3 linked regions of the Homo sapiens genome follow. The protein of the gene in region 3 interacts with the protein of the main gene of each other region in a pairwise test. Each region holds a gene or a part of one and is shown on either strand. Other genes may lie near its edges.

Region 1 (7,113 bases), on a different chromosome or scaffold from region 3:
TAACTTTCAATTTCTGGCTGATTTTTATATTTCAGATTCCACCCATCAACACGGAGGCCAAGGAAAATTTAATGAGCCAAATAACTTATGGCTCTTCAAATTACAAGATCTGTGGGTTTTAAAGTGTCATTGTGACTTGAACTAGCTGTCTTTCTTTCAAACAAGACTTACTTCAAATGTGATGGTCCAGCACCTCAGTCCGGCTTGATGACTTGTGCTTTTGTTTTTCCTCTCTGCATCAGTTAGCTGGCACCTCGGGTTTTGAATTCAGTTCCCTGGACTGTAAGGGGTTGAAGATTTGATTTAACTTATATTTAAAAAGGCAATGATCCCAGAACAGCAAATAATTCCTCAAGGAGCTTATTGTGTAATAAGGAGGAGATAAACACTGTCAAGACTCGCACTGTAATCAGTGCTGCCACCGAGTACAGGTGATGTCTCTGGAGATGGAGTAAAAAACACCCCATCCTTGGTGAAGGGAAACAAAGAAGGCCCCACCGAGAAGTGGGTATTTGGTGTGAACCCTAAGGGAGGGAGAGATGGAAAGAAGGAGAGGAAAGATGCTTGCCTCATAGTGCTTGCCTCCCCTCCTCTCCACAGATGGAAAGAAGGAGAGGAGGCAAGTATTATGAGGTAGGAAACCTGGAGGTGTTAGAGCACAGCAGGTATTGGATCAAGCTGAAAAACAGACAAAATGAGGACATTCTCCACAGGTGTCCACAGACTCAGTTACACGGAAGTTTATTCTGATCAACACATTGGCCATTTTACTGAGAACTAAATGTGATTTGGTGTTGACTCCTTTCTAAACTTATAAAAATAAAACTCAGATCTTAAAAATTCCATTGTCAGCATAGGTCCTAATCTGTGGTCCGGAAAACATCTGGGCATCAGGCCCACAAGGGGGTTAATGGGCTGTGGACACTGGGGTGCAAAGGTTTTCTGAGGGGAAGAGTGGTGAGATCTGGGCTTAAAAAGATGAATCGAGATGCAGTGTGTAGGAAGCATGGGCAAGGGATGAGGAACGCCACTTTGAAAATTACTAAAACTAAAGCAAGTGACTAAGAGTGTGAATGACCCTGGCTGCAATGACTACGCCTGCTGGGCTTCGTAAGTAATTATGGGTGTCTTCTGTTTTTGTCAGTATCACAAGGGAGCTTGACTCGAGCAAGGGAATGTATTATATGACTTTTGAAAAGGGTATCTTTTAATTAAGGTTTTCTTTAATTTTTCAGTATTAAAATTAGACTCTATTTCCTGAGCACCCACAAATGGACCTGACAAAGGGAAGACACAGATGTACTGCGTGATGAGGAAAGCCTATCAGGATTAAAATATGGCTGTGAGTAACTGTGGTCCTTCTTTATACTTAAAATAGCTGCCATGTGTTATTATGAAGGCTTCTGATGGTGGTATCAAAATCCTTTGAAATAATAGACTTGCACAGATTTCCCTGGTCATCTAAAAGAAAGATGTCATTATTCAGTTAAAAGCAAACTTGCACATTTTCTAAGAATCATTTTTACCAAAAAGGGACATTTTACTGCGAGACAGACATTTAAAAATTTACATGTCTTGAGATATTTTTGTATTGTGGTAGCAAAATGATTACATTTATTTCTTTTTCTCCACCTTATAATAGCTGATGCTTCCTTCAACTTATACATGCTGTTGGAGCTTTCTAAATCGGTAAATTATTGATTAGCTGATTGCAGGTTTAAAATCAAGCAGACTCTTCCAGGGATTTCAATCAGTCCTGGGCAAAATTGTGAATTAGTCAGCATTGGTTTCTGGATCTCTTTATCCCTTTAGCAACCACCTCCTGATTGTCTCTACCCACCATCCCTCATCCCTCCCCTAGGGCTCTCCAGTGGGCCCCCTGTTCACACCACCATGCCTGTCTTCCTGTCCTGTCCAGGAGTCCCTCATTCCCAGCTAGGTCTTCCTTCAATCGCCTTTCTACTTACCACACTTTCCCCTCCTTCAGGTGGGAACGGTCCTCACAAATTCCTGCTAGCACATTAATGTGCCACTTTCCTAGGTAAAATATTGCAATTTAGTAGGAGACGTTGATACTTTGACCAAAAGCAGTTATTTTTATAGGAACTTGGGCACCACAGTGTGCTGGGAGAGGAGAGGATTACAACTCCCAATGTGCTACAGAGTTTTAAAAATTCTTTCACCTCTATTTGCTCATAATTTGGTATATCAGGAAAGGTTTGGTGATGAAGACATTGGAGTATACACATATTTATATTTTAGGAGGCTTCTCAATGCAAAGAGGGTTAACCTTTCCTTTGTACCTTGCCTTTTAATCAGTAGAGGATGGTAAAACTTCAAATTAAAACTGATTTTAAAAATCATTCTAATACTTGGCATCCTCGTGCAGAATCTGAGTCCCAGAGTCATTCCTAGGGTGACTGAAGAGGCAGATATGGCAGATAATCTGAATCAGGATGAATAAGTTATTTGCTGGAATTTCTGGAATGGTTGCCTACCACTGCAGCCCCCAAATGAATGGTTTGCTCGCTGTAAATCCTGAGTTGTGGGTGAAGCCTAGAAAGTATGAGAGTTGATCCAGGAGAGAAGGATTTGGCATTTGCCCTGTATGGAAGAGAAGGCTGGGGAAGACTACTCCTGGGGTCACAATGTTGCTCATCAAGTGGAGATCCCCGGTGGGAAGGGAGGGACTGAGCAAGGTATCACCGTCCTAGTCAGCCTGCTTGTGCTGAGGAGGTCATTCTCAAGGACTCAAAAGGTTCTCTATCTAGTTCTTACCTGAATTTTTGGATTTCACAGATCCAGAAATCCTTACATCAGTTATACAGTTAATGGTCTTTTCTCTTCTTATATTTCCTTTTTGGATTATATGGTGTTTTCCTAAAGAACTTTCTGAAAATGGCCAGGCATGGTGGCTCATGCCTGTAATCCCAGCACTTTGGGAGGCTGAGGTGGGTGGATCACCTGAGGTCAGGAGTTCAAGACCAGCCTGACCAACATGGAGAAACCCCGTCTCTACTAAAAATACAAAATTAGCTGGGCGTGGTGGTGCATGCCTGTAATCCCAGCTACTAGGGAGGCTGAGGCAGGAGAATCACTTGAACCTGGGAGGCGGAGGTTGTGGTGAGCTGAGATCGCACCATTGCACTCCACCTTGGGCAACAAGAGCGAAACTCCGTCTCAAAATAAAAAAAAAGACTTTCTGAAAATGCATACCTGTCTCGGCTTTGTTGAGAATGGACAAAGAACAGGACTCTGGCCTCATTTGGGCTGGATGGAAAAAGGGCATAGAATGAGATTCTGATAATCCTGCAAGGAGAGCAGGAATCAAAGTGAGAGGATCCTCAGTAGGATATGAAAAAGCAAGGAGTATGTCAGGGATGGCCTCAGCATCTGCTCCTCTGTCATCAGCGGGCTTTCCTTTGGCCCAGCCCTTGGAGAATTTTATATTTCATATGATTAAGTATAGTTTGAATATTTTTGGTGGACACAGATGGCCCTGGTCTGATGTGCTGAGGAGACCTGCATTGGAGGCTCTGGCCTCCCTTCCTGCCCCTCCCTTCCTGGCCCACAAGGAATTAATACCCAAGGCTAGGAGGGTGCTTAGAAACAAGCAAACCAAAACAAAACCCAGTGCATTAATATCCTCTAAATTCCTAAAGAGCTTATTTTTTTAAAATGCGGTCAAATTTTTATCCCAATCTTACTTCCAAACAAACATGAATTATAAATGAGTTTTGCAACTGTTATAGCCTTTAAAAAAATTCAAAGTGATAGAGCTGCAAAAATGATGCATTACCCGACTGGTAACTCCTTCCTCCCAGATCCTGGCTGGGATCCCCCTTATAAATTGTTTTTTAAACTGTAATTTTACAAACTTTGAAGTGTCAATATAATGCAAACTGTTATGCTATGATTACTAATGCTGTACTTGAAGGCAATGATTATAAGTTAACTGAAGGAACATTGTATTGATGCTTTAGGTCACATATTCTATTTTTATTTGGTTATTTTCATTGAGCAAAATTTATTTTGTGTCCGTGTTAATTTCCGTAGCTAATTACTGTGCTTTGTAATTTTTATTATAAATAAATTCATAATAAATATCATTTAATTTTCTATATAGTAGTAGTGTCTAATGTATATACTTTTATTTACGATGTGATTTAAGTAGATTTCGTTCAGTATCTGAAGCTTTTAACGACCTCTGTGTATACTTGTCATGTATATACTTGTATATTTATACGGTAATATACACTTGTATATTTATACAGTAATATCTACATATCTAAGTTTTTCCACCAGTAAAATTAAAATAGTGTTAGCTTGTCCTTTTCCTTCTCTTCCTCTCTACTGAATAGTCTTAAATGGTAGGAAGCCACTCTAAGGAAAACTGTCCTTTTGAAAATATGCATCGATCAATTCCTTTCTCTTGGCTTAATTCTCTAGGTGCTTCCCAGGGTCAAGTATTGAACCTGGTCTTTGTTTTCTGAGGAAAAAAGAAAAAGCAGCAGTAACTTGATAGTTTGGGAGACTGAGATACCTCCGTTCTCCCTTGGCTCAGGCAGTAGAAAGGAAAGGAGAAGCAGCATAGCTCCCTTAGTTGTGTCTTAGGTGAAGCAACACTTGGCTTTGTTTGTTTTTCTTTTTTGTATACTTTTCAAAGGGTTTTCACAGCTCTTCATCCTTATTACAGCACCATGAAAGATGCAGGCATTGCTACTTGCATTTTTACAGCTTAGTGACCTCTCCAAGGTCCCACACCCGTTTTGCAGTAGAGTGGAGCCCGGAGCCCAGAACCCAATGCTCCTGGAGAAGGTTTCTATTTTAAGCACCTTTTCTAGCCTCAGTTTCCTTGCACTGGGGCTAAAGAGATCCCTGCTTTCGTGAAGCTTGCAGTAAAGTGGCTAACATGTTTCAAGTTTAGCCACTGTGCTGACACATAGCTGAGGCTCCCTCAATGGCGCTATCGTAAGAACAATGTGAGAGTAATATTAGTGGAGCAGAGCAGGAGGAGACTTGGCAGGGGAGGCTGGGTTCAGATGTCAAGTTGACAGTACACCCTGAGGTCAATATTACTGTGCACATTTCTCATCTTCTATATTATAGTCGTATTCCCTGCCCATCCCTCCTGGCCCCAGGTGGCTCTTCTGAGAACAATCTGGTAATTTCATGCAAGAGTAAAATATCTTTCCCGATAATTATACAGAATTGAGCATCTCTGGTGAAAAAGAAAGCTGGTTTACAGATTTCTTTTTCTCTCTGAAAAATATGACTGTGAACCTAAAAAAATAAGGCTGCTATTTTATAGGTATTCCTTTCCCTTCCTTTTTCCCTGCAGATAACTCAGCCTCTCCAGAGTGCAGCCACCATGACCTCCGCAGATTGATGATGGAAGAAAAGAAAACCAGGATATCCTGTGCTCTGGCTTCCCTGGACCATGGATGGAGGACAGCCCATCCCCTCATCCCTAGTGCCCCTTGGGAACGAATCAGCAGATTCTAGCATGTCCCTGGAGCAGAAAATGACATTTGTTTTTGTGATTCTGTTGTTTATTTTCTTGGGCATTCTCATTGTCCGGTGCTTCCGGATTCTTTTGGATCCATATCGAAGCATGCCAACCTCTACCTGGGCTGATGGACTTGAAGGCCTGGAGAAAGGGCAGTTCGACCATGCCCTTGCTTAGGAGGGATGGTGTGGGATCTCCTCCTGAGGAGATGAAGTGCTTTGTGTCTTGGTGAGGATTCCCTTTATTTAGTGTTCTCAACAAATCAAATTTAAACAATATTTGGTCCCAGGACCATAATCCATTATTCCATAAATATGCAGTTGGGTTAAAGACATTTGAGGATGTTGGAAATGGACACTTATATAACTAATCCAACATAAGAAGGTTTAAATTTTTATGTTTGCTCAATGAATGAGTACTCTTAAAATTGTGTGATTGTGAAACCAAGAGCGTTAATACTGACATAGATTTGCCATCAAACAAAACACCACCTGATCTGACTAAAGAATAAAAGACTAGAAAGGATCTCATATGAATCTGGTGACAAGGCCAGGAAGAGATTTCCTTGCTCTAATTATGTCTATATTTGTTTTATTTCATGGGCACCTATCTGGGTCCTGAGCAGAATGAGGAAGATTGTGCTGAATGGACCCAAAGTAGTTTCTTGTTTTCTCCCAAAGCAGGGAGCTTTGGGAAGCAATGGAAAAGCTTAAAAGAGATGATTCTGTCCTTGGTAAATGTGAGTGAGAATAGCGTTTTGTTTTTCAAGTAAAACTTAATTCAAAGGCTACAAAGTTTTAAAAACTATTTACCAAGCCAACTACATTATATGTATTCATATTAATAACATGTGTAGAGGTAGCTATACATTACTTGAATTTACACTTTACACAAATGATTTAAAAAATAGGTTGCAAGTGCAGCTTAAAGTTTTTTTTCAATGAAAAGTTAATTGTTTAGAGGAGAAGACTTTTATAGTCTTCAGAGGAATGTGTATTTATGATTGTATATAGTCACCAAATAAAACTTTTCAAGAAACAGAAATGCTTCCTCTCTTATTTCACCAGAACTAATGCACTGAGGGTGCTACCTGGTATTAAGTGCTGAGGCTTAACATTTTTCCAAGAGAGGAGAAAAGAGTTAACAGCATGAAAGCTCATCTAATTCATCCCTCTCCCATTTCAAGAAGAGCTCCTATAAATTGTCCTGCACAGACAAAACCGATAGTTTTTAAGACCACCAAAAAGGGAGATGTGAATACCTCTTATTCCAACTTTTGTTGGAAGGAAAAGCTTGTGTCTAAACCAACCCTGCAGATAACTCAGCCTAAACCAACCCCGTTAGGCTGTATTTATAATCTATGTCTTCTAGTTTTCTCCTCAGCTAGTCATTACCTTTTTTGATTAAAAAAAGCACACTTCTTTAACCTATTAATTATAAGATTTTCTTTTTCTTTCAAATGTACTGTGTCATGTGTGTCCTCATTAATTTTTTTTTGTATTTTTGTTAGAGTCTATTCAAACCCACTCATGTATTTATGGAGCTCCTGCTTTGAGCCTGGAATTGCTAGCACTAGAAAGACAGAAAACACACAGGGCCAGTTC
Region 2 (7,113 bases), about 65 Mb from region 3:
GGCTTTCTCATTGGACTATTGAGAGTGAAACAGTGAGACACTCAGCTGTGCTCCCAAAGCACAAAATGGGTCGCTGATTAGGGGGGTAGAAAGGAGTATGGGAAGGGACTTGAAAAACCTATAAAAGGCCAGGTGTGGTGGCTCACACCTGTAATCCTAGCACTTTGGGAGGCTGAGGCAGGCGGATCATAAGGTCAGGAGTTCGAGACCAGCCTGACCAACATGGTGAAACCCCGTCTCTACTAAAAACGCAAAAATTAGCTGGGCATGTTGGTGTGTACCTGTAATCCCAGCTACTCAGGAGGCTGAGGCAGGAGAATCACTTGAACCCAGGAGGTGGAGGTTGCAGTGAGCCGAGATTGCGCCACTGCACTTCAGCCTGGGCGACAGAGCGAGACTCCATGTCAAAACAAAACAAAACAAACAAACAAAAACAACCTATAAAAACAGATTCAACTACAGCTTTACCTTTGTGTTGCTAAAATCATAGGTCATTGGCACCTCCCTCAGTGTCTAGCAATGGAATATAGCAGTTACTATTTTAATGGCCTATCAAAGCAAGTGGTAAGCTCGCTGTTTAACAGAAGGAGCCCATGATCACTGTCTCTGAACTGGCTCTTTGCTAATGTTAATTAGCTTTACCTCCAGGGTAACTAATTTGTTGATGATGTACCATTTCCAGAAAAATTACAGTTAAACCTTAATAGTTTTATATCCTGATTGGACTTTTTATGTTGGTAGCATGGTCTTCTTTGTGTTGAATTGCTTTTTAAAAACTTTATTTTGGAAGGTAAAAGATACACAAACTAGAATAGTATAATGGGCCCCTTTCATACTCACCACCCAATTTCTGTGATTATCAATATTCTGCCATTCTTGTTTCATCTCTACCCTCCACACCTTTTTTTTTTTTAATTTTGAGATGGAGTCTTGCTCCGTCGCCCAGGCTGGAGTGCAGTGGCATGATCTTGGCTCACTGCAACCTCTGCCTCCTGAGTTCAAGTGATTCTCCTATCTCAGCCTCCCGAGTAGCTGGGATTACAAGCACCCGCCACCATGCCCGGCTAATTTTTGTATTTTTAGTAGAGATGGGGTTTTGCCATGTTGGCCAGGCTGGTCTTGAACTCCTGACCTCAGGTGATCACCCGTCTTGGCCTCCCAAAGTGCTGGGATTACAGGTGTGAGCCACTACGCCTATGCCCGGCCCAGATTACTTTTTTTTTTTTTTTTTTTTGAGACAAAGTCTTGCTCTTGTCCCCCAGGCTGGAGTGCGATGGCACAATCTCGGCAAACTGCAACCTCTGCCTCCCGGGTTCCAGCGATTCTCCTGCCTCAGCCACCCCCCGACCCAATTACTTTTTCTAAACTAGTACTTCAGGCACCTGTGTGCTTGATAGTGTAATGAGGTTGTCTATTGCCCCAGGCCAAGGGTTCCCGCCCGGACTTTACCGCAGATTGGAATCACTTGGAGAGCTTTTAAAGCTCCCCACGCACGCCCAGGACAAACCCCATACCAGTTGAGTCAGAATGCTGAGGTTGGGACCAGGCATTGTTATTTTTTTAAAGATTCCCCAGTGATTCCAACTTGTTTCAGAACTATTGCTCTTTAGGGCTAAAATAACAACACAAGGACTGGAGTCAGGACACCTGGGAGTTTGTGCTAGCTGTGTGCATTTCTCATAACCTCTTTAGGGCCACTCTCTGTGTGTAAAAGTGTTCTCTATGGCTCTGAAATTCTCCTTTAAGTCTAACCTTGTTAGACTGGTGTTCAAGGCTCTGCAGAAACTAGCTTCTACTCATCTCTACCATTTTATACTTAACAGGCTTCCAGGGCCACCACGCAGCCAAATGTGCCGGGCACGTTTCCTTCCATTCATCTTTGCTCGCCCTGTCTTTCACTAAGTCTAGAATGTGCTCCTCCCTCCTGTCTGAATAAGAGACCTGCTTTAACTTCGTGGTCATCCAGATGTAACCTCATGGACCCTCTCCATCTGAGTGCCTTGGTCAGCAGTAATCTCTTCCACCTCTGAACTCCAGACGTACTTACCACTTAGATCCCACATTTGGCAGGAGGCAAAACTTACCATATGTGGATGATTTTTATATGTATGGTCTGGACCCCAGAGCCAGACCTAGGCTCCTCTTTTCATGATAATATGGAGGAAAAAAAAGTGAAATGTGGCAAAGTTTGGACCAGGACCCAATTTTCCTTATTAGCCTCCTGTTTTCTTAATTCTGTGTTTTCTTGTATCACTGCTATTTTTCCCTACACACACAAATACATGAATATATATATATGAATGATATACATGTGACATATACGAATATATAGTATATATGATATAAACGATAGGTATGTGATATATATGAATATATGTATCAGTGATATATATGATATATGTGAATGTGTGTGATATATATATGATATATACATGAATGGTGCTGCTTTACAGTATAGTGGTTAGTGGTTCAGGATCCTCTCTCAGGATCCTTATGAAGTTTACAGTGTAAAGCTCTTAGTATAGGACCTGGCTCAGGTCAGGTACTCAGCTGTTACTATTGCTATAATTATTCTAGTAAGATTCCTAAGGGAATTGATGGGCGCATTTTCCTTCATTTAAAAAAAAACACTTATCAAGTTCCCTCAGTGTTCAAATGATATGTGGGAATTGAAAGGTTTTAAAAAATATATTGTTTACTCAAGCAAAAATTAGGACATTAGGGGCAACAGGAGTTTCTGATATTTTGTGATGGACTGGTCCTGGAAGATAATGCTGGTCATGTTAGTCCACAGAGTCTCTGCTTTTTAGGAGCAGACTGTCTGATAGGAGAAATGAAATGTGTATGCATGCTTAAGTATTTTCGTTTTTTTGTTCGTTTGTTTTTTTGAGATGGAGTCTCACAGTGTCGCCGGGCTGGAGTGCAATGGTGTGATCTCAGCTCACTGCAACCTTCGCCTCCTGGGTTCAAGCGATTCTCCTGCCTCAGCCTCCCAAGTAGCTGGGATTACAGGCACCCGCCACCATGCCTGGCTAATTTTTTGTATTTTTAGTTGAGACGGGGTTTCACTATGTTGGCCAGGCTGGTCTCGAACTTCTGACCTCATGATCTGCCCGCCTCGGCCTCCCAAAGTGCTGGGATTACAAGCGTGAGCCACCGCATCCGGTCTGCTTAAGTATTTTCTATATGATAGAAAGTAAAAATGCTCTGAGAGAAGCAAAACATAAGGGGCTATTGGGAGTTCACCGTGAACCCTTCAAAGCCTCCAACGCTGCTGAATGACAACTAGAAGCTTATTAAATGTTTTGAGAGAATTCTGGCAAGCTCAGATGTCAGGTGGGTGTGTGGCCTTTGTCCCCGGAGCATTTGGTTTTAGGCTAGACAATACTTGCTGTTCCTGCACCCTAGAGCCGCCCCCAGGCATCTGCAAGCCCAGCTTCTTCACCTTGCCTCGGTGTCACCTGATCCTAAGTAGCAGCTCCTTATCACTCTCTGTCCCTTTATCCTGCTGCGTTTTTCTTCTTAGCACCTATCAACACCTGACATACTATGTATTTAATTGTTTTATGACTTTCTTTCCTTAAAATATGAGCTCCTTGAAAGAGGGACTGTGTTCATTCTGTTTACTGCCGTCTTCTCCAGTGCCCAGAACAGTGCCCAGTGCAGCGGAGACCCCCCACATGCTTTCTCATTGGCAGAACAGCACAGTTGTTAAGAGCCCCGGCTCTGGGGCCAGACGGCCTTGGTTTGCAGCAGGCAGAACCACTTGGGCAAGTCACTCTAACTCTTTGTGCCTCCTTTTCTCATGTGTGAGTTGGAGATGGTAATGGTACCCACTTCATAGCGTTCCTGTTTTGATTAAGTGAGTTATTACTAACGAAGCCTTCAAAATAGTGCCTGGCACATGGTAAATAACGCTCAGTCCATGTTGCTTTTACTGGTCATGTTATTATTCTTCCCCTCTGTTTGAATTCTTTGGCTAGAATGAAAATGTCAAACTTAGACAATGCAAAAATTTCTTTTAAAGAACCTTAAGGCCAGGTGCAGGGGCTCACGCCTGTAATCCCAGCACTTTGGGAGGCCGAGGGGGCGGATCACGAGGTCAGGAGATCGAGACCATCTTGGCTAACACGGTGAAACCTCATCTCTACTAAAAATACAAAAAATTAGCCAGGCATGATAGCGGGCGCCTGTAGTCCCAGCTACTGGGGAGGCTGAGGCAGGAGAATGGTGCGAACCCAGGAGGCAGAGCTTGCAGTGAGCTGAGATCGTGCCACTGCACTCCAGCCTGGGCGACAGAGCGAGACTCCGTCTCAAAAAAAAAGAACCTTAAACATTTTCTCTTTTTACGACTTTGGTGCAGGTTCTCCACATACGATTCTACTTGTCAAATTGCCCAAGAAATTGCTGAGAAAATTCAACAACGAAATCAATATGAAAGAAAAGGTGAAAAGGCACCAAAGGTAATACCATGAAGGAATTAGTACCCAATGATTTGTTTGAGTTTTGAGGCCTGAAAACCCTCCTATCTTTCTTTGAGGCTGTCTGTGCACATGTGTGTATGATGATCTATCTGCTTACATATGTTGAATTGACATAACACCCAACCAGTTAGTAGTGATGTAATCATTGAGACTAAATGAGGCATAACACATTTAAGTTCTCCTGTTTTACTTTAAATATTTCTAACAATTTTATAGTCTAGTTCAGGGGTTAGTAAACTTCCTACAGATAATAAATCTTTTAGTCTTTGCAGGCCAAGAGATAATGTCTTCAAGTCTTTGAGTTTCCATTCTCACCACAAGAATAGTTATAGTTTTTACATTTTACATTAAAAATGTAAAAACAGGCCAGGCATAGTGGCTCACACCTGTAATCCCAGCACTTTGGGAGGCTGAGGCGGGCAGATTGCTTGAGGTCAAGAATTCGAGACCAGCCTGGGCAACATGGGGAAACCCCATCTCTACTAAAAATATAAAACCTAGCCAGGCGTGGTGGCACACACCTGTAGTCCAGCTACTCAGGAGGCTGAGGCAGGAGAATTGCTTGAACCTGGGAGGTGGAGGCTGCAGTGAGCTAAGATCGTGCCACTGCACTCCCGCCTGGGCAACAGAGTGAGACCCTGTCTCAAAAAAGAAAAAAATGTAAAAACCATCTTTAGTTTTGGGCTGTATAAAAACAGTGGTGGGATTTGGCTAAGAAATAGATTTTTGTGAAATCACAAGTTTATACTTGTGACTATGATTGAAAATAGAAGCCTCTGATTCAAATCTAACACCACACCTTTCTTCCTTATTTTCCACATTCCAAATTTGTATTTTCTTTCTCTCACACTGAGAATCCTAGTTTCCAAAAGCATCAGTATGTTTTTACTCATTTGGTCTATTTTACAGTTTACAGAAAATGGTTTCAAAATTACTATAAGGTACCACGACAAACACTGAGTTCAAAATTTGAGTCTTTTTAAGTGTAGACTAATCTACTAAGAATGCTGAGGTTATTATGTTCCAAAGTTATTAGAATTATTTTTTAACTTTCAAGTTCAGGGGTACATATGTGGGTTTGTTGTATAGGTAAGCTTGTGTTATGGGGATTTGTTGTACACGTTATTTTGTCACCCAGGTATGAAGCCTAGCACTTACTATTTTTCCTAATCCTCTTCCTCCTTCCAGCTTCCTCCCTCTGCTAGGCCCCAGTGTGTGTCATGTCCCCCTATGTATCCATATGTTCTCACCAGTTAGCTCTCTCTTATATCAACAGAGTGAACAAACAACCTACAGAATGTGAGAACATGCGGTATTTGGTTTTCTGTTCCTGCATTAGTTTGCTAAGGATAATGGCCTTCAGCTCCATTCATGTTCCTGCAAAGGACATGATCTCGATCTTTTTTATGGCGGCATAATATTCCATAGTGTATATGTACCACATTTTCTCTGTCTGGTCTACCATTGGTGGGCATCAGGTTGATTCTATGTCTTTTGTTATTGTGAATAGTGCTGCAGTGAACATACACATGCATGTGTCTCTTTTTTTCTCTTTTTTTTTCGAGACGGAGTTTTGCTCTTGTTGCCCAGGCTGGAGTGCAGTGGTGCAATCTCGGCTCACTGCATCCTCTGCCTCCCAGGTTCAAGCCATTCTCCTGCCCCAGCCTCCAGAGTAGCTGGGATTACAAGTGCCTGCCACCATGCCTGGCTAATTTTTGTATTTTTAGTAGAGATGGGGTTTCGCCATGTTGGCCAGGCTTGTCTCGAACACCTGACCTCAGGTGATCCACCCACCTCGGCCTCCCGAAGTGCTGAGATTACAGGTGTGAGCCACCCCACCTGGCCACATGCATGTGTCTTTATGGAAGAATGATTTCTATTCCTTCGGGGATATACCCAATAACGGGATTGCTGAATCAAATAGTATTTCTGTTTTTAGTACGTTGAGGAATTGCCACACCGTCTTCCACAATGACTGAACTGATTTACACTCCCACTAACAGTGTATAAGTGTTCCTTTTGCTCTGCAACCTCCCGAGCATCTGTTATTTTTTGACTTTTTAGTAATAACCATGCTGAGTGGTGTGAGATGGTATCTCATTGTGGTTTCGATTTGCACCTCTCTAATGATCAGTGATGTTGAGCTTTTTTTCCTGTTTTTTTTGGCAGCATGCCTGTCTTCCTTTGAAAAGTGTCTATTCGTGTCCTTTGTCTGCTTTTTAATGGGGTGGATTTTTCTTGTAAATTTGCTTAAGTTCCTTATAGATACTGGCTATTAGATCTTTGTCAGATGGATAGCTTGCAAATATTTTCTCACAATGTGTAGGTTGTTTGTTCACTCTGTGGATAGTTTCCTTTTCTGTGCAGAAGCTCTTTAGTTGATTAGATCCTATTTGTCAATTTTTGCTTTTGTTGCAATTGCTTTTGATGTCTTTGTCCTGAAATCTTTGCCTGTTCTTATGTCCAGAATAGTATTGCCTAGGTTGTCTTCCAGGGTTTTTATAGATTTAGGTTTTACAGTTAAGTCTTTAATCCATCTGAAGTTAATTTTTGCATGTGGTGTAAGGAAGGAGTTCAATTTCTATCTTCTGCACGTGGTAGCCAGTTATCCCAGCACCACTTATTGAAT
Region 3 (6,926 bases):
ACTCCGGCCAAAAAAAAAAAAGGAAGTCACTTGTAAAGACTTATATTTCAGAGGTAGGGCAGCAGTGTGGATAAGAGTACTATCTAAAGCCCAGTAAGCAAAGCCACCTCCAAAATGGAGGTAAAGCAAGGCAACTTGCAGAGGGGAGAGCCTGGATAGGTGAGCTTAAAGAAAAAGATAAAGGCCAAGGTGAGCGGATCACTGGAGGTGAGACCAGCCTGGCTAACATGGTGAAATCTTGTCTCTACTAAAAATACAAAAATTAGCCAGGTGTGGTGGCATACGCCTGTAACCCCAGCTACTCGGGAGGCCGAGGCACGAGAATTGCTTGAACCTGATTGGCGGAGGTTGCAGTGAGCCAAGATCACCCCACTGCACTCCAGCCTGGGTGACAGAGCCAGACTCCCTCTCGAAAAAAAAAGAAGAAGAAGAAGAGGAAAGAAAAAGATGAGATAAGGGGTGTGGCTGATTAAATCACAGACCCTCAGATGTAGAGCATGGCTTATGGTTGCTTAGCCCAATTTTCTACTTAATGTAAAAATATAACAAAAGCAAATTTTCATGCAAAGTATTGGCAGATGACACCAAATTACTGTTGTTTGAAAGAAGAACCAGGACTGGATTGGGAAGGAGTGGGTAGATCCATGCTGTTGATAACATTCTAGTTCATGGATTGGCCAGTGAGCTCACAGATGTTTGTTAAGTTACATATAATTAAAATAAAAGAGGGTCTTGAATGGACCAGTGATGAGAGAGTGTTCCATGACCCATGATCTAATTCTGGGCACCTGAAGTTAAGGAAAAAGAAGGTTATGCTAATTCCAAGATACTTTCCTCTGTCCTGCTAGAGTGTTACCTGAATGCAAGATTAGCATTTCTCAAGGAAATCCAGCATGTTCCTGGAAATAATTGATGGAATTATATAAATGCGTCGGTGCATTTGTTGAAACATGTGCTTGCTGGTTGCTTGAGGTTAATGGGAGCTACTAAATATTGGACAGCAATCAGTTCAGAATGGAAATACCAGATGATGTGGCAGAGAGGTCAGCTATTTTGTCACTATTACTAGGTTAGCCTTATTCTTGACACCTCCATGGCCAATGGAAAGAGCTCTGTGGAGGACACAGATCTGGACTTCATTTCCAGCTTGTCTACTTAGTTCTTATGTCATCAGATCTCCCTTCATCATCTTATTTATAAAGTGGAGTCAATGCTATTTGCCCTGCCTGGGTCACAAAACTGCTCAGAGGGTTAAATTCTATCATCTATTTGGAAGTGTTTATAGGTTATAAAAATGTGTAATAAATAGAATTCTAGTTTTGCTCTTTTTAAATTTTTTACTTTTCTTTTTTTGTAGAAATGGGGTCTTGCTATGTTGCCCAGGCTGATCTCAAACTCCTGGGCTGAAGCATTCCTCCTGCTTTGACCTCCCAAAGCACTGGGATTACAGGTGTGAGCCACCTCACTCAACCAACGTTTGCTTATTTTGTATTTGAATTTGCTTCCTTCCTCTTTGTCATTTCCCCTCCCTGCTAGAATTGCCCTTTCCATCTCTCTTTCCCAGTTAAGATTTTCAGAGGGACCTGCGCAGGTCACATTGCGAGTCTGAGGATGGGGAATGAGATAGGGGTGGAAAGAGAGATGGAAAGGGCAAAGAAAAAGGAAGCAAATTCAAATACAAAATGAGCAAACATTGGTTGAGTGCAGTGGCTCATGCCTGTAATCCCAGTGCTTTGGGAGGTCAAGAGAGGAGGATTGCTTGAGCCCACGAGTTTGGGTCCATGTCACCTACCTGGTCTTCTTCCTTTAAATCGCTGTCATTTTCACTCACCCTTCTAGAAAGAATCTTGTCATTACATTGGGCAATTTCTATGTTTTGTGAGGGAACTCAACCATAAAATTCATTCTGCAAACATGAAGAATGTCCTCTAATTTTTAGCCTAAATTTATTTCCCCAGAGACAAATGTGTTTTCCTGCAGTTTTGTATTTTGAATGTCTATTAATAAGAGTTTCTCTTCTGAAGTCCAACCTTTGCAGGACAGTTTCATTTACTTGTTTACACCACACCTTGTTCCGGGAAGGATTTAAGGTAGATGTTGAGGATGGCATTTTTTTTTTTCAGACAGGATCTCAACTCTATCACCCAGGCCAGACTGCTGCAGTGGTGCAATCTCGGCTCACTGCAACCTCCGCCTCCCAAGTTCAAGCGATCCTCCTGCCTCAGCCTCCCTAGTAGCTGGGACTACAGGCATGCATCACCACGCCCAGCTAATTTTTGTATTTTTAGTAGAGACAGGGTTTCACCATGTTGGCCAGGCTGGTCTCAAACTCCTGACCTCAGGTGATCCACCCACCTTGGCCTCCCAAAGTGATGGGATTACAGGCGTGAGCCACCACGCCCAGCCCATTAATTATTTCTCACAAACCATTCCAACCCCTTTACACTAAGCTTCGTCAAAACAGAACTATTGTTAATTCTTGAACTCTCCATGGTCTTTAATGTCCTCACACTTGCACATAAGCTATTCCTTTCCCACTCAGCCAACTCATTCATCCTGCAGGATGGACTTCCAATGAAGCCTCAGTGACATCTCCCACCCTTCCAAGAGCAAAGTGAGGGGTTCCTGTTGCATACTCTCATCACCACATGAATGAGTCTCTACAACAGTAATTTCCACATTGTATTGTAGTTAGTTGACTCCCTCAGTTCAGAAGTTACTCTTAATTACAGCACCCAGAACAGTCCTGGCACATATCTGGTGCTCAGTAAGTGTTTGTAGGATCCGTGGATGAATGATTGAATGTATAGAAGGATGCACAGGTGAATGAACGGATGTATCTTTCCCTTTTCTGTGGACACTTCACCTCTGGTTTGAACCCAGGACAGCTCTTCTACCTACTGTCCTGCCCCCTGCAAAACCAAGTCCCCAAAGCCACAGCCCCACTCACCTGAGAGGCAGAGAAGGAGTAGAGCTGGGAGCAGCCACATGTTCCTGTCTCCTTGGCTTCCGTCCTCAGCAAATCTAGGTCCCAGCTGGAATCCAAGTATATGTAACGGAGCCTGGGTCATCCACTTTCTACTTGTCCAAGTTTCCTTTGTGTTCTCACTCATCTATTTCCTCTTTTGCCTTTTAAAGAATGCTTCCTAATTTTAAGCCTTACTTAGCAGAAGAGAAAGGGTGGCAAGAGACGTTTCTGAGAATGGACCAAGCACAAACAGGAAAATCTGTTGGCCTTCATTTAATGTGAACGTAATGTTTGAGTCACCCCCTGAGATTTCATGACTCGGAATTTCATGAAAGTCAGTCCCAGTTTACGAAACCTCTCCAACAGAGAAAACTCTGTTCCCTGCCTCTTTCACTCTTCTTCCTATCTGGGATTACTTCATCGATCTAAGGAGCTTCCCTTCTCTATGGCTGCCTACTTTTGAATCATAAAACACCCTCTACTTAAGGAGCTGTGGTGATCACTCCCCATGTCTTTCTCAACCGTTATCTCCATGCGGATGACTTCACACCTCTTCCTCTAACCCAATATCCCAATATCTCTCCTGGGCTCCAGATCCTACTTTCTAACTTCCTATAGGGAAGCTCCACCTGGTTATACACTGTTAACCTAGTTCAGTATATGGGTCATGGTCAACAGCATAGATTCTGAAGTCACACAAACTCAAATCTCATCTCCATCATTTATTAATCATCTGACCTTGGGCATGTTGCCAAATCACTCTCCTCCTCAGTCTCCTCATCTGTAAAATAGAGTACTCATGACAATTCTTTCTCAAAGGGTTGCCACAGGAAATAAATGAGTTAATGTAAGTAAAGTGCTTGATACAGTGCCTGGAACATAGTAACTGCCCAGTTAATATTAAATACCTTTAGAATAGTCCTGGACCATTGAAATAGCTTCTCATCTGGTCCCTCCACTAGCTATACATTCTCTCTAATCCAACTTGCACATCAGAAGATACTCTTCTCTAAGACATAGCTATCTGAAAATATAATTTCTTTCCTTCTCTTTCCCCAGAGATACCCATCTTTGATACCCACAGCCTCTAATCTTTACTATCTTTTAGAACTCTACTGGATCATCTGATATTTCAAACTTTTGTTGTAAGAGCACAACTTCTTATCTTTTCTGTACCACCATATCTGATGAAGTATTATATAGCCAGGCATGGTGGCACGTGCCTGTAATCCCAGCTACTTGGGAGGCCAAGGCAGGAGAATCACTTGAACCCAGGAGGTGGAGGTTGCAAAGCAATGAGCCAAGATCACACCATTGCACTCCAGCCTGGCAACAGAGAGAGACTCCATCTAAAAAAAAAAGAAAGAAAGATGAAAGAAAGAAAGAAAAAGAAAGAAAGAAAGATAGATAGATTATATATAGAATAGAGCCCTGGATGGAACAATAAAACACCAGGACCCTGGTCCCATGTGTGACATGAGCCACACACTTGAGGGATCCAGAATGAGCAGAGCTGACAGTAGCCACAACATTGTGTCTTAGTCCATTTTCTTCTACTATAACAGAATACTACAGGCTAGCTAATTTATAAAGAACAAAAGTTGGCAGGTGCAGTGGCTCATGCCTGTAATCCTAGCACTTTGGGAGGCCGAGGCACGTAGATCACTTGAGGTCAGGAGTTTCAGACCAGCCTGGCCAACATAGCAAAACCCTGTCTCTAACAAAAATACAGAAATTAGCCCTGCATGGTGGTATGAGCCTGTAGTCCCAGCTACTCAGGAGGCTGAGGTGGGAGAATTGCTTGAACCCAGGAGACGAAAGTTGCAGTGAGCCAAGATCACGCCACTGCATTTCAGCCTGGGCGACAGAGAGAAACTCTGTCTCAAATAATAATAATAAAAAAGAACAAATTTGTTCACCTTCCTAGCTTTCTGAAGATGAGAAGTCCAAGAGCATCGTAGTGGCATCTGACAAGCGTCATTCCATGGCAGAAGACAAGACAGCAGGCAAGCCTCCTAGACAGAGAGAAAAAGGGGACTGAACTCAGCCTCTCAGGAAACCACTCTCACAATAACTAACCCACTCCGGAGATAACAGCATTAATCCACTCGGAGGACTGAGCTCTCATGGCCTAATCACCTCTTAAAGACCTCACATCCCAATGCCATTACATTGACAGTTAAGTTTCAACACGAGTTTCTGAGGGAACATTCAAACCATAGCAACCCTTGTGCCATTTATTCAGCAGAGACAACAGTTGCAGGCTTCAGTTCTTTCCACCAAGAGGACCAAACAAATCTTCAGCCTTCTTGGTTCTGCTTTTATAATGTTTTCTTCTGGTTCCTTTTTTGAAAATCTTATCCCTACAGTTGTTTATAAAATAAAAGAAATGGGAATAAGCAAAGGCATGTGTTGATGGTTGAAAAACTATAAACTCACCATGTCTAATATAGGCACATTTCATTATAATCCAATTAGAAAATCCAAACTCCGACCACCTAGTAAGACCGAGTTGACACAGAAGCTATCATCTGGTTCCAAACTGAAGTCAAATCCAATAAAAGGAAATTCCAGGTATTAGAAATGTAAAGGGAACTAAAAGCCAGGTCTGTGAGCAGGATCTGATACCAAGAGGCTAATGGGGACCAGTCAAAATGAATTTGGGCCTTAGGAGGAGAGGGGCTGCTGTTTAAATAGCCACTCAGGGACAGAAGACAATGTCTCAGGTCTACACAAGACAGGGAGTGGGAGCAGAGCCCCCTGCCAAAAGCTAGGATCCATGAATGGTCATTACGCCCATGGAACAGGATGAGGGGAGACCCCATTGATGGGCTCATGGGAGTATCAAGGCATCTCCACTCCCTGTAGTTATAAGGAGTTACCTTCCATGAGAACAAGCACCTAAGTTGCACTACACAGGGGTGTGAGATCCAAAGTACAACTTCCCATCGTGTGGGAGTGTGGACAAGGACGTCAATATAAAACAGGTTGGCAAATGATGAGACTTGTAGGGCCATGGAAGAGATGAACACACACCAAAACCACACCTCCAGTTCACCTTGTGTTTTTATACACCCCATGAGCTAATGATCATTTTCACATTATTAATGGTGGGAATTTTTTTTTTAATTCATGACACATGAAAATTGTCTGAAACTAAAATTTCAGTGTACATAAATAAGTTTTACTGGAATACAGCTACACATGTTCATTTATGTATTATCTATGGCAGCTTTCATGCTACAACAGCAGAGTTTGTTACAGGACCAACGAGTTCATATGCCCATTGCACTGGAACAAACCAATACACCAAGACAACAGGGTTTGCAGCAGAGAAAGAGTTTAATGATCACAGGGTAACCAAGCAAGGAGTTGGGAGGGACCCTCAAATCCATCTCCCTGAGAAGTTCTGGGCTGGGACTTTTAAGGGGATTGTAGAGGGCAAGTAACTGGAAAATTGGGATCATTGATTGGTCAAGGTAGGATGGATGAAATCATCATGATCTGGAAACAGCCTTCTTTGGTGAATCAGCTTCTCTTGGATTCCTCTAGACCAGCTGGCATCAGTAGTTTCACTGGTATACAAGACCTGGTAAAAATATCTCAAATGGAAAACTTAATGTCTCACAATGCTTAAGATGTTACCTATGGTACAATTAAGGGGGACTATAGTCTTACAACCGGGTCTGTGTGATTCTGGGGGAATAGGCAGCAAATATGAAGAAGCAGGACAGAGAGCAGGCTGACCTCATGATTAATGCCAAATGTGCTGCAAGCTTGGTTTATTTTCATTTCTCCCCTTCCCTTCTTCCCTGATTAATTTTATAAAATTTATAGGAACAATTCCAAGTTGAGTAGTTGTGACAGAGACCGCAGAGCCCAAAAAACCTAAAATCTGTACTGGCTGGCCCTGGCAAAAGGAGTTTGCCATTCTCTGGCGTTGACGATGGACCCCTCC

What was found.
Region 1: the proteins of CD300E (region 3) and CTXN3 interact in binary tests that used the Homo sapiens proteins (3 or more experiments, as listed by UniProt).
Region 2: the proteins of CD300E (region 3) and STX8 interact in binary tests that used the Homo sapiens proteins (3 or more experiments, as listed by UniProt).

Annotation. Positions count from the first base shown.
Region 1 is NC_000005.10:127,652,082-127,659,194, forward strand, and holds the end of CTXN3 (cortexin-3), read left to right. Parts: intron 1-171; exon of another isoform or gene 172-280; intron 281-968; exon of another isoform or gene 969-1,110; intron 1,111-1,235; 5' UTR 1,236-1,342; intron 1,343-5,341; 5' UTR 5,342-5,440; coding exon 5,441-5,686; 3' UTR 5,687-6,549; downstream 6,550-7,113.
Region 2 is NC_000017.11:9,565,721-9,572,833, reverse strand, and holds part of STX8 (syntaxin-8), read left to right. Parts: intron 1-2,896; exon of another isoform or gene 2,897-3,278; coding exon of another isoform or gene 3,279-3,336; intron 3,337-4,363; coding exon 4,364-4,463; intron 4,464-7,113. UniProt on the Homo sapiens protein: Vesicle trafficking protein that functions in the early secretory pathway, possibly by mediating retrograde transport from cis-Golgi membranes to the ER.
Region 3 is NC_000017.11:74,620,632-74,627,557, forward strand, and holds the start of CD300E (CMRF35-like molecule 2 precursor), read right to left. Parts: upstream 3,108-6,926; 5' UTR 2,991-3,107; coding exon 2,951-2,990; intron 1-2,950. UniProt on the Homo sapiens protein: Probably acts as an activating receptor.